Linked DNA regions of Homo sapiens: region 2 is linked to region 1. The links come from fine-mapping of genetic effects on gene expression. A gene starts in region 1. The other region holds a variant in brackets. All regions are shown on one strand. Distances are from middle to middle.

Region 1 (4,329 bases):
GGCTGTTTCTTTGAGAGGTTAATCCCCAAAATTAGACACGGGAGCAGCTTCCAGCTGTGACTGTGAGGCCCTTCTGAGGCATTTGATGAGGTTGATCATAAACTTTTACTTAAAACTCAGAATTCTCATACTGAAGGCTTTGGAGATAGGCAATTCTGGATCAAAATACTGGCTCTTTCCGGCTGGGTGGCCTGAGAAAAATTACTTAACCTGTCTGAGCTTTCGTGCCTGGTACACAAACACTTAAATGCTAACAACTAGCATATTTTATTATAATCATTATTTATATAAGTGCTTAGCACAGAGTAAGCACTATACAACTGTATGTGGGGAAAAAAAATATTAGGGTAGGAGGTTTGGAATGAGTCGTGTTTTATGTTTTGAAAGATCCCCAGGGGAGAATTCCAAAACCTACCTTAGACAACCCTTGCTTCAAGTCCCCATCTTAATGGAAGTGCTCTCTGCCATCTAACCTGGCTCCCTCCTGCTGCTGCAGCTGAGGCCTAAGTCTACCAGGACTACCTGGTTCTCCCATCTCAGTCCTGCCTTCTACCCTCGTTTTTGGGCTTGCGTCTATTCCAGCCCCCTCCCATCCAGCCCCCAAGGCAAAAGGTTCACTTACTGCCCAGGTCCAGGGTCTTGCTCACAGCGCCCATCCCAGGGGCAGGCAGAGGAGCCAGTGTCTGCTGTGCGCCACCCACCCCTCTCCTCTTCCAGGGCTAGCAGGGCTACCCCGGGCTGGGGGCTGTGTTGCCGCAGCTGGCCAGGAGCCCCACCTCGCAACGGGTGGGCTTCAGGGAGAAAAGGGAGGGCCACATCAAAGCCGGGCCGGAAGGAGTCCACCGTGGGGCTGGCCTCAGCCACCATAGCCTGTCCCAGCTGGAAGGTCCTGGGGCAGGGAGCCGGGTGGAGACGGAGGACCAGATGGTTCCTGCCCCTGTTCCATTGCAGAGGCATTGAGCTGCACTCTCCAGTCTGGGCGTCCAGGCTGAGGAGGAGGAGGAGGCAGGCCCCAGCAGGGCTGAATGTGTAGAAGCGAGAGCCCTCAATGGAAGCCAGGATCCTGCGATGAGTCTCAGAGATGGTTCCAACCGCTGGGTACACGAATACCTTAAGGCCATCGCCCCTGCACTTTGAGGTATCAAAGCAAGATTCCCAGTTGCAGCTGCCACCATGAGGGGCTTGAGGAGGTGAAACGGCATCTTCTGGGAGCTCTCCAGGCTGGGAGAAGCTCTGCAGGAGCTCTGCATCCAGCCAGCGGGGCCAGCCTTGGGAAGCCCCGGGCCGAGGTCTGGGAGGCAATGCCAGGCGGAGAAGGGAGAAGCCTCCCAGCAGGACAAGCAGGAGCCAGGAGGCTGACAGTGCCAGCCACAGGGACTTTCTTCTCCTCCACGACTGCATGTGGCCACCCACAGTCAGGGCTAGGGAAGCTGGGAGGCCTCTGCCAGCAAGCAGGAAGAGCAGGGCCTGGGGCGGGAGACCAGAGCTGGGACCGACCTGCTAGTCCTGTGCTGTCATTGTACAGATGGGAAGACTGAGGCCCATCGAGACCAGGCCGCCTGTCTAAGGTCAGATAGTGAGTCACCAGCCAGGCAGGAGGAGGCCAGGTGGGACCCAGCTTGCTGGCCTGGCCCCCCTGCTCTCAGGACTCTGCCTTCTCGGCCTTTGGACAACCAAGCCAGCCTTTTCCCTCCCAGCAGGGACCCCTGCCCCTGGGCACTGCTCTGGCTGACGCAACCCCTGTCCAGAATGCAGGGCCGTGTCCCCCTGCCCTCCTGGCTGCACCCCTTGACCTTGCCCTCAACTGAGAGGAGGGCTGTCTGCCAGGCCATGGGGACCAGTCAGAGCTCCCACAGGAGGCGGCTTGGCCAGGGACAGGCTGGAGGGAGCTGGGCTGGTCTTCCCACTCCTCCCCTTGCCTGAGCAGCCCTGGCTGCCCCTGTGCCCGCTGGCAGACGCTTCTGGGCTGTGGCCCCTGTGGCTGGAGCTAAAATTAGACCCTGCATCCCATGTGGATCATCGGCGTCAGCTGAGGTCACAGCCTGGGTGCAGCCGGTGTCCCCCTGCCTTGGAGGGCCAGGAGGGCTCGGGGTCCTGATCCTTATCCACTCTGCCGCTGCACCAGCTCAGGAAGTGCAGCCCCTCTTCCCCGCAGCCCAGCAGCTGCCTTGCACCATCTGGCTTGGAGCTATCACAGTGCAGAGGCCAGGGCCGCTGTGCCAAGCCCCCCAAACCCTATGGTATCTCCTCCCATCCCTCTCCAGTCGGCAACTGGCCCATCCTGATCTCTTTCCTTAGCAGCAGCCTGGCTCCTCCCCTCCCAGCCCTGATTCGCTCCTGGCTGGGAGGCAGGGTCTCCATTTAACCCCTTCCAAACCAGTTTCCTCAATTGCTAATCCAACCAGCAAGTACTGCAACTCACAGCTGGCCATGAGTTATCACAGCCTCTGTCTCTCAGTCCTCCAGCCACCCTCCAAGGCAGAGATTTACCTGTCATTTCTTACAGATGAGGAAAGCTCAGAGAGGGGATGAACTCTTCCTAAGGTGACCCAGCTAAGAAGTGGCAGGGTGGGGATTTCAATCCTGAGCTCCTGGTCGTTGGTCACCCCAGCTGTGGGCCCTGTGGCTGGAGAAAAACTAGACCCTGCACCTGCTGTGGGCCATCAGAGTCAGTGGAGGTCAGAGCCTGAGTGTGAGGAATCTCTGAATCGGCACATGAGAAGGTCAACAGGTGAGACAAGTGAGGAGTTAAGGGGCGGGGGTGGAGGAATTGGGTAAGGTGCCCCCAACTGTCCCCAGGATTGGTCTCTCCTCCTTCAGCAGCCCCACCCCCAATCTCCTCCAATTCCCAGCCTTTTGCTCCAGTCCTTATGGAAAGTTCTTCCTGCACTTGACTCTTCCATAGTCCAGGCCCCATGGAGGGATTTCCCCGGTCAGTGCCCTGTGAGGGGAGTCAGGAGTGGGTGATGTCAGCCACTGAGGAATCTCTGGGGTGACGGGGGAGACACACTCTGGCCATGAGGAGTTCTGGGCTGATGAGGGAAGGCACAGGGAGTGGACAGACTTGAGTGGGTTCTGCCTCTTCCCCTGACTGCCTCGGGGGTGTTGGGCCTCTGTCCCCTTATCTCTGGGATGGGCATAATGTCAGCCAGGAATGGGTTGCCAGGTTGACGCAGGCCTGTCCCCTGAGGTCCCTCAACAAGTGGTGGCCTCCTTTCCCCTGCGTGCCTCCCCTTGATCTTGGAGGGCTGCTGATCAGACCAGGGAGCCACCGTGGGATGTTTTGCCCTCAGTGAGCAGCCAGTGTGAGAGTCCTAAAAATGGCCCACAAAGGGGACACTTGCCTCTTGGCACTAATGGCTCAGCCACTCGGTGATGAACTGCAGTTCCTGCATAACTCAGTCCTCCCACACTGAGAGGCATCCACAAAGGCCACTGGCTGCTTCGCACGCCCCCCCTTTCACTGTGCCCAGCCAACTCCTCATCCTGCAGGAGTCAGCTGAAAGCTCCCTCCCCACAAGAAGCTTCTCCAATGCTCCGCAGGCTGGGTTAGAGCCCCCGTCTAGGTCCTCATGTCATTCCTTCATCCCTCTATCCCCATACACAGTCATCCATTCATCTAACAAACACTTATGAGTGTTGAATATGGGCCAGGTTCTGAGCTAGGCCAGGAACACAACCCTGAGTAAGAGTAATCATAGCTGACACTCGTATTGCACTTACAGCGTGCCAAGCATCCCTCTTTTGTATCAGCTTGTTTCATCCTTTCCCCAACCCTAGGAGGGAGAAACTGTGATGATCCACATTTTACAGTTGGGAAAACTGAGGCCGAGGGAGCTTAAGTAATTTGCCTGAATTCTCACGGCTTAGCCAGGACTTGGACCCAGGTAGTGTGCTCCTATATCCGCTGCACCATTCCAGCTCCCAACAGGGAGGGAGACAGACGCGTCCCCACCCTCCAGAGCTCGCTGTCCTGGAGAAGACAATTATAGAACTAGGCAATTGCAGGCAATTACAGAATGAGGGGAGGGGACCCTGAGAGTACACAGAGGGGCTGCCTAGCCCAGGGGGCCAGAGAAGGCTTCCGAGGAAGTGATACCTACCCTAAGACCTGAAAGACAGCAATGTGGTTTTTAGAAAAATCGCTGTGGCTGTCTGTGTGGGATCAGACAGGAAATGGCAGGACTGGAGGCAGGGACAGCTTTTTGACTGGTCTGTCACCCCACAAGTCTCTCATTCATTCAACAGCTATTTACTGAACCCCTATTGTGGGGCCAGGCAGGTCTTAAGGGCAGTGAGCAAAGCAGAAAAAATCTTGCCCTCCTGGAA
Region 2 (4,383 bases), 150 kb after region 1:
AAAAGAAAAGAATTAGGCTGGGCACAGTGGCTCATGATTGTAACCCCAGCACTTTGAGAGGCCAACGCAGGAGGATTGCTCAAGCCCAGGAATTCAAGACCAGCCTGGGCAACATAGTGAGACCTTGTCTCTACACATAATAAAAAAATTAGCCAGGCGTGGTGTTGTGTGCCTGTGGTCAGGGCTACTCAGGAGGCTGAGGTGGGAGGATGGCTTGAGCCTGGGCAGTTGAGGCTGCAGTGATGGCTGCACTGCACTTCAACCTGGGGACAGAGTGATACCCTATCTCAAGAAAAGAAATAGTTACTTATTTCATTCTGATCACATTTTCCAGTACAAATACATGGAGGTCCCAAGTGCCAAAGTTACAAAAAAAAAAAACAGTTTCTGTTCAGTTTTGGAAGACATGTAGGGACTTTTTCTTTAAACACTTTGGACCAAGTTGGGGAGTTAGCCTGCATTGAGGGAGGTGACCCAGTTGCTAAGAGACTGGGAGGCCAGCCAGGGATGAAAACTTTGCCTGTATAATCTGTGGTCACCACTGGGTGCCTGGGAGTTACCCACGGTGGACAAAGGGCAAGAGCGCTGGTTTTGGAGTCAGATAGATGTGCTCTGCCCTCCCGCCTCCAGGGCTGGGCTCCCAGGTTGGCTGTGGATCCAGAGAGTTGTGAGGGAGAGGTAAAATGTGTGTGAAAGTTCTTGGTAAACACCCAGCCACTATATATTATGAGTGGTAGCACCTAATCTCCTTAATGATATTTCAGGTGCCATATTGGGTCATCCTCACTAAAGACCCTTCAAGAGGGTTTTCCTCCAATAGCCCCAGTATTAACATTGGTCTGGCCTTATTATTTGTATCTAATGGGGTTAGACTTTCCCTTCCATGCTGAGAAAAAGTTGTCTTTAAGAGAATGTGCTGAACAATCAGGGCCCAGAAAGGCAACAACGAATATTTTGCATGCCAAGAAGGAGGCAAAAGAGGAAGTGGAATTGTACCCAAATAATGCTTATAATAGGTGTTATTTAGCTGAGCTGTAAGCTCCAGGAGGGCAGGGTATTAATATATTGAGGTGTTGGCTGAGCACTGTGGCTCACTCCTATAATCTCAACACTTTGGGAGGCCAAGGTGGGAGGATGACTTGAGACCAGGAGTTCGAGACCAGCCTGGGCAACATAGCAAGACCTCGTCTCTACACATAATTTAAAAAAATAGGCATGGTAGCGTGCGCCTGTGATTCCCAACTACTCAAGAGGCTGAAGAAGGATCACCGGAGACTGGGAGGTCAAGGCTGCAGTGAGCTGTGTTTGCACCACTGCACTCCAGCCTGGGGGACAGAGCATGACCCTGTCTCAAAAAAAAAAAAAAAAAAAAAAAATCCTGTGGTGTTACCATTGGTATGAATTCCCTGGGCTGTTAGTTCTGCGAGGGCAGTGGTTTAAATGGCTCTGTCACTGAGGAAGCTGCAGCGCCTGGCACATAGGAGGCCTAAAGTAAATATTCTTGGACTGTCCCAGGGCCTAAGGGCCCTTGGAAGTCACTGGTGAATTTACTCTCTCCTTTGACATTTGGAGAAACAGGGCCAAGAGGGGAGGGGACTTGTCCAAGGTCACACAGGGATTGAGTGGCTGAGTCAGGACGAGAATCCCACAGAAACGGCAGAGCCAGCACTGTGCCAGAGCCAACACCTGGCATCCATGGCTTTGTTTTGCTTCCACAAGAGCCCAAGAGGCAGCTATTTTAATCCTCTGATTCCAAAAGGAAACAAGCTCAGAGAGGTTGAGGGACTGTTGCAGAGTCACACAGCAGGTGAATTCCAGACCCGAAATTTCATCCTCACATAAAAATGAGGCCTGTGGCGTCTCTTGAAACAGCCTGCCGGAGAGCCTGCAGAGATTAGTGGAGGATGTCCACCACCAGGGCAGCAGTCTTCTCCAGTTCTCCAGGCTCACTACCTGGCTGGCTTCCCTCCAGGCTGGATCTTCCTAGGCCCTGTGGGCATTTGTGTGGGTGAGCCCGTTGGGGCAGGGAGCCTGTCTGCTTCATTTTCTGTGTGCCCCAGCACACAGAATGCCTGGGTAGCGTTGAGGCTGGCATATAGTATAAGCACTGAGTGAAATCTGTGAGATGGGGGTAACCCAGGGCTCTCCCTCTCCATAAGCCCATTTTCCACCACCTCCCTGCAGCCTGGTCTGTTTTGCCCCACGGGTGTTATGGGAACCTTTGACAGTGTGTATCCTTGGAGAGCAGGCTGGGGCTTGCAAGCCTTCGTTAAGGAGAGAGGTGAGGAGGGCTGACCTTGAGTTGAGGAATATGAATTGGGAGGGGTGAGGAAGTGGAGGGGAGGGGAAGGGAGGAAGGAGCGGCTCAGGCTGACAGAGGCACTCCCACTGGAGCCCTGGAGATCGCACTTCAGAGGTTCAGCCAACCCAGAAGACTCCCAAACCTTCTGCAAGACATGTCCAGGCCAGACCATATGCCATTTGGATCACCTGCTAATTTGGTTCACCCTCTTGTGCCCTCGTGCTCTCCAGGG[C/T]TTCTGAGCTGCTGGAGTTGAGGCCCCTTCCCCTGGGACTGTCACTGCTTAGCCACATCTCTTGGGCCTGTGGGTAAGCACCAATTTACAGGGCTCTGTGAATTCAAAACAGTTACTCTGAATGGTCTTTGCTAAGAACAATTTAATGATTAAGTAAGGTCAGTGTCCTTGGAAGTCCAAACTCTAGCCAGATTTCCCTGGTCTACACCCCTAGGGATAAGGTAAATGTTTAAGCACACAGTGAACTTCCTGAGGCCCCCAAATCTAATGGAACTAGCTATTGAGGGCTAAAAGAGGATGGTTTTTTTAGAAAACTCGAAGCAAATCTCTCAGGCTGGGGATATTTCAAAGACTACTACTATTATTATTAATAACAATTGCAATATTTGTTGAGTCCCTAAATGAAGCTAAAACTTTGTTCTAATAAATTTAATCTTTACAGCAACCTATGAGGTAGATAATATTGTCATTCCCATGAGGGAGCTAAGGATCAGAGAAGGTAAGTCACTTGTCTAAGGTCACATAGCTAGCATGTTATGCAATCAGGAGTCAAACCTGGTTTGTCTGAATCTGAAGTCCATCTGCTCTGTGCACTTTTATACCGTCTGCTTTTTCCTTTATTCCTAACCTTCTTCCATTCTGATTCCCACTGAGTAGTGGACAGGAACCACTGAAGTTTGCCTGACACCATCAACCAGGCCCTAGTCACCTGGCTTTGCCTTTGCCCTGCTGTGTGATCTTAGGTAAGTCAAACTTTTCAGCTGGCCCTCGGTTTCCCCGTAAGTCTCATGCAGAGGTGAATGGTGAGCTGCTTGCTGCAGCAGAGGCCTGGCTAGGAAGGCACACAGTTTAGCATGGATTTCACCACTATGGGAGTGGTGAAGTTGGGGAGGAGAGGTGTGGGAGGTTGTCTTTAGCCCCACCCTCTGGTGACATCACACAAGACACCCCCAGTCCCTGGAAGCCCCGCCCCTAGTGCCCCTCATCTGTGGAAGTGCTCAGCATCTGGTGAATTTGCCCAGTCCCATAGTAGAGGTCACCAGCCCCCAGGCTTGAGAGAAACCCCCAGGTACCCAGTGCAATTTGCCAGACTTGGAGGGGCCCATGGAGGTGGGCTGGGCTGAGCTGCCTGAATAGACAGGGCCCAGCAGCCTGGTGGGCACACGACTCAGAGGCTGACCACTCAGAGGATGCCCTGATGGTGCCCTCCGGATATCCATCCTCATCCTGCTGGCTCAGGCTTGACCCCTGCCCCTGCTTTTTCCTTTCCCCTGGATCAGAGTCCCTTTCCATGGAGTCAGGAGGTGGAAACTAATTCTGAAAACAGACCTACTTAGGTGGAGTGAGGCCTCTAGCTGAGGTCTAAAGAAAATAGGGCAGCGGGGTCTCTGTCATCCTAGCATGGTGCCTCAGGTTTTGTCCATAGGGCCCATTATATCTGGGGGAGGGAGGTATAAGCGAGCGCTGTCACTCACCTAAGGAGGTGGCTTGAGCCAGGGCCTCCCTGGAGAAGATCAGGTGCAAGCAGGTAGCCAGCAACTGAGGGAGACTGAATTGCTAGAAGCCTAAGAAAGTAATTTATAAGAAAGAGCCTGGTTGCCTGCTTTAGACCAGGATTTTGCAAAGTTGTTCTGTAGGATGCAGACAAGTGTGCCTGGAGCAGGGCAGCAGTAGTGTCTGCAAGCATCTACAGCCCAGTCCTGGCTCCACCTCCCTCCCCCATCCTCCAACCTTGGGTAAGGAGCTTTTTTTTTTCCTTTCTTTTTTCTTTTTTTTTTTTTTTAGAGAGTCTCACTTTGTCACCCAGACTGGAGTACAGTGGCACGATCTCGGCTCACTGCAATCTCAG

The links. PIP is the estimated chance that this variant, and not a neighbour inherited with it, causes the effect.
Region 2: its variant is the best candidate, but not a certain one, in a credible set for the expression of EXTL1 in cerebellar hemisphere (GTEx, PIP 0.90).

Annotation. Positions count from the first base shown.
Region 1 is chr1:26,019,719-26,024,047 of GRCh38, reverse strand. It overlaps EXTL1 (exostosin like glycosyltransferase 1), which reads right to left and starts at 2,273. Exons shown (of 11, transcript NM_004455.3): 1 at 623-2,273. The coding sequence starts at 1,401.
Region 2 is chr1:25,869,503-25,873,885 of GRCh38, reverse strand. PAQR7 (progestin and adipoQ receptor family member 7) reads left to right here. Exons shown (of 3, transcript NM_178422.6): 2 at 3,192-3,277. Among named protein-coding and RNA genes, the nearest start is that of PAQR7, 4.0 kb to the left of the region's middle. RefSeq lists enhancers at 1,049-1,138, 3,669-4,170. The variant C/T (reference allele first, on the strand shown) is at 2,535.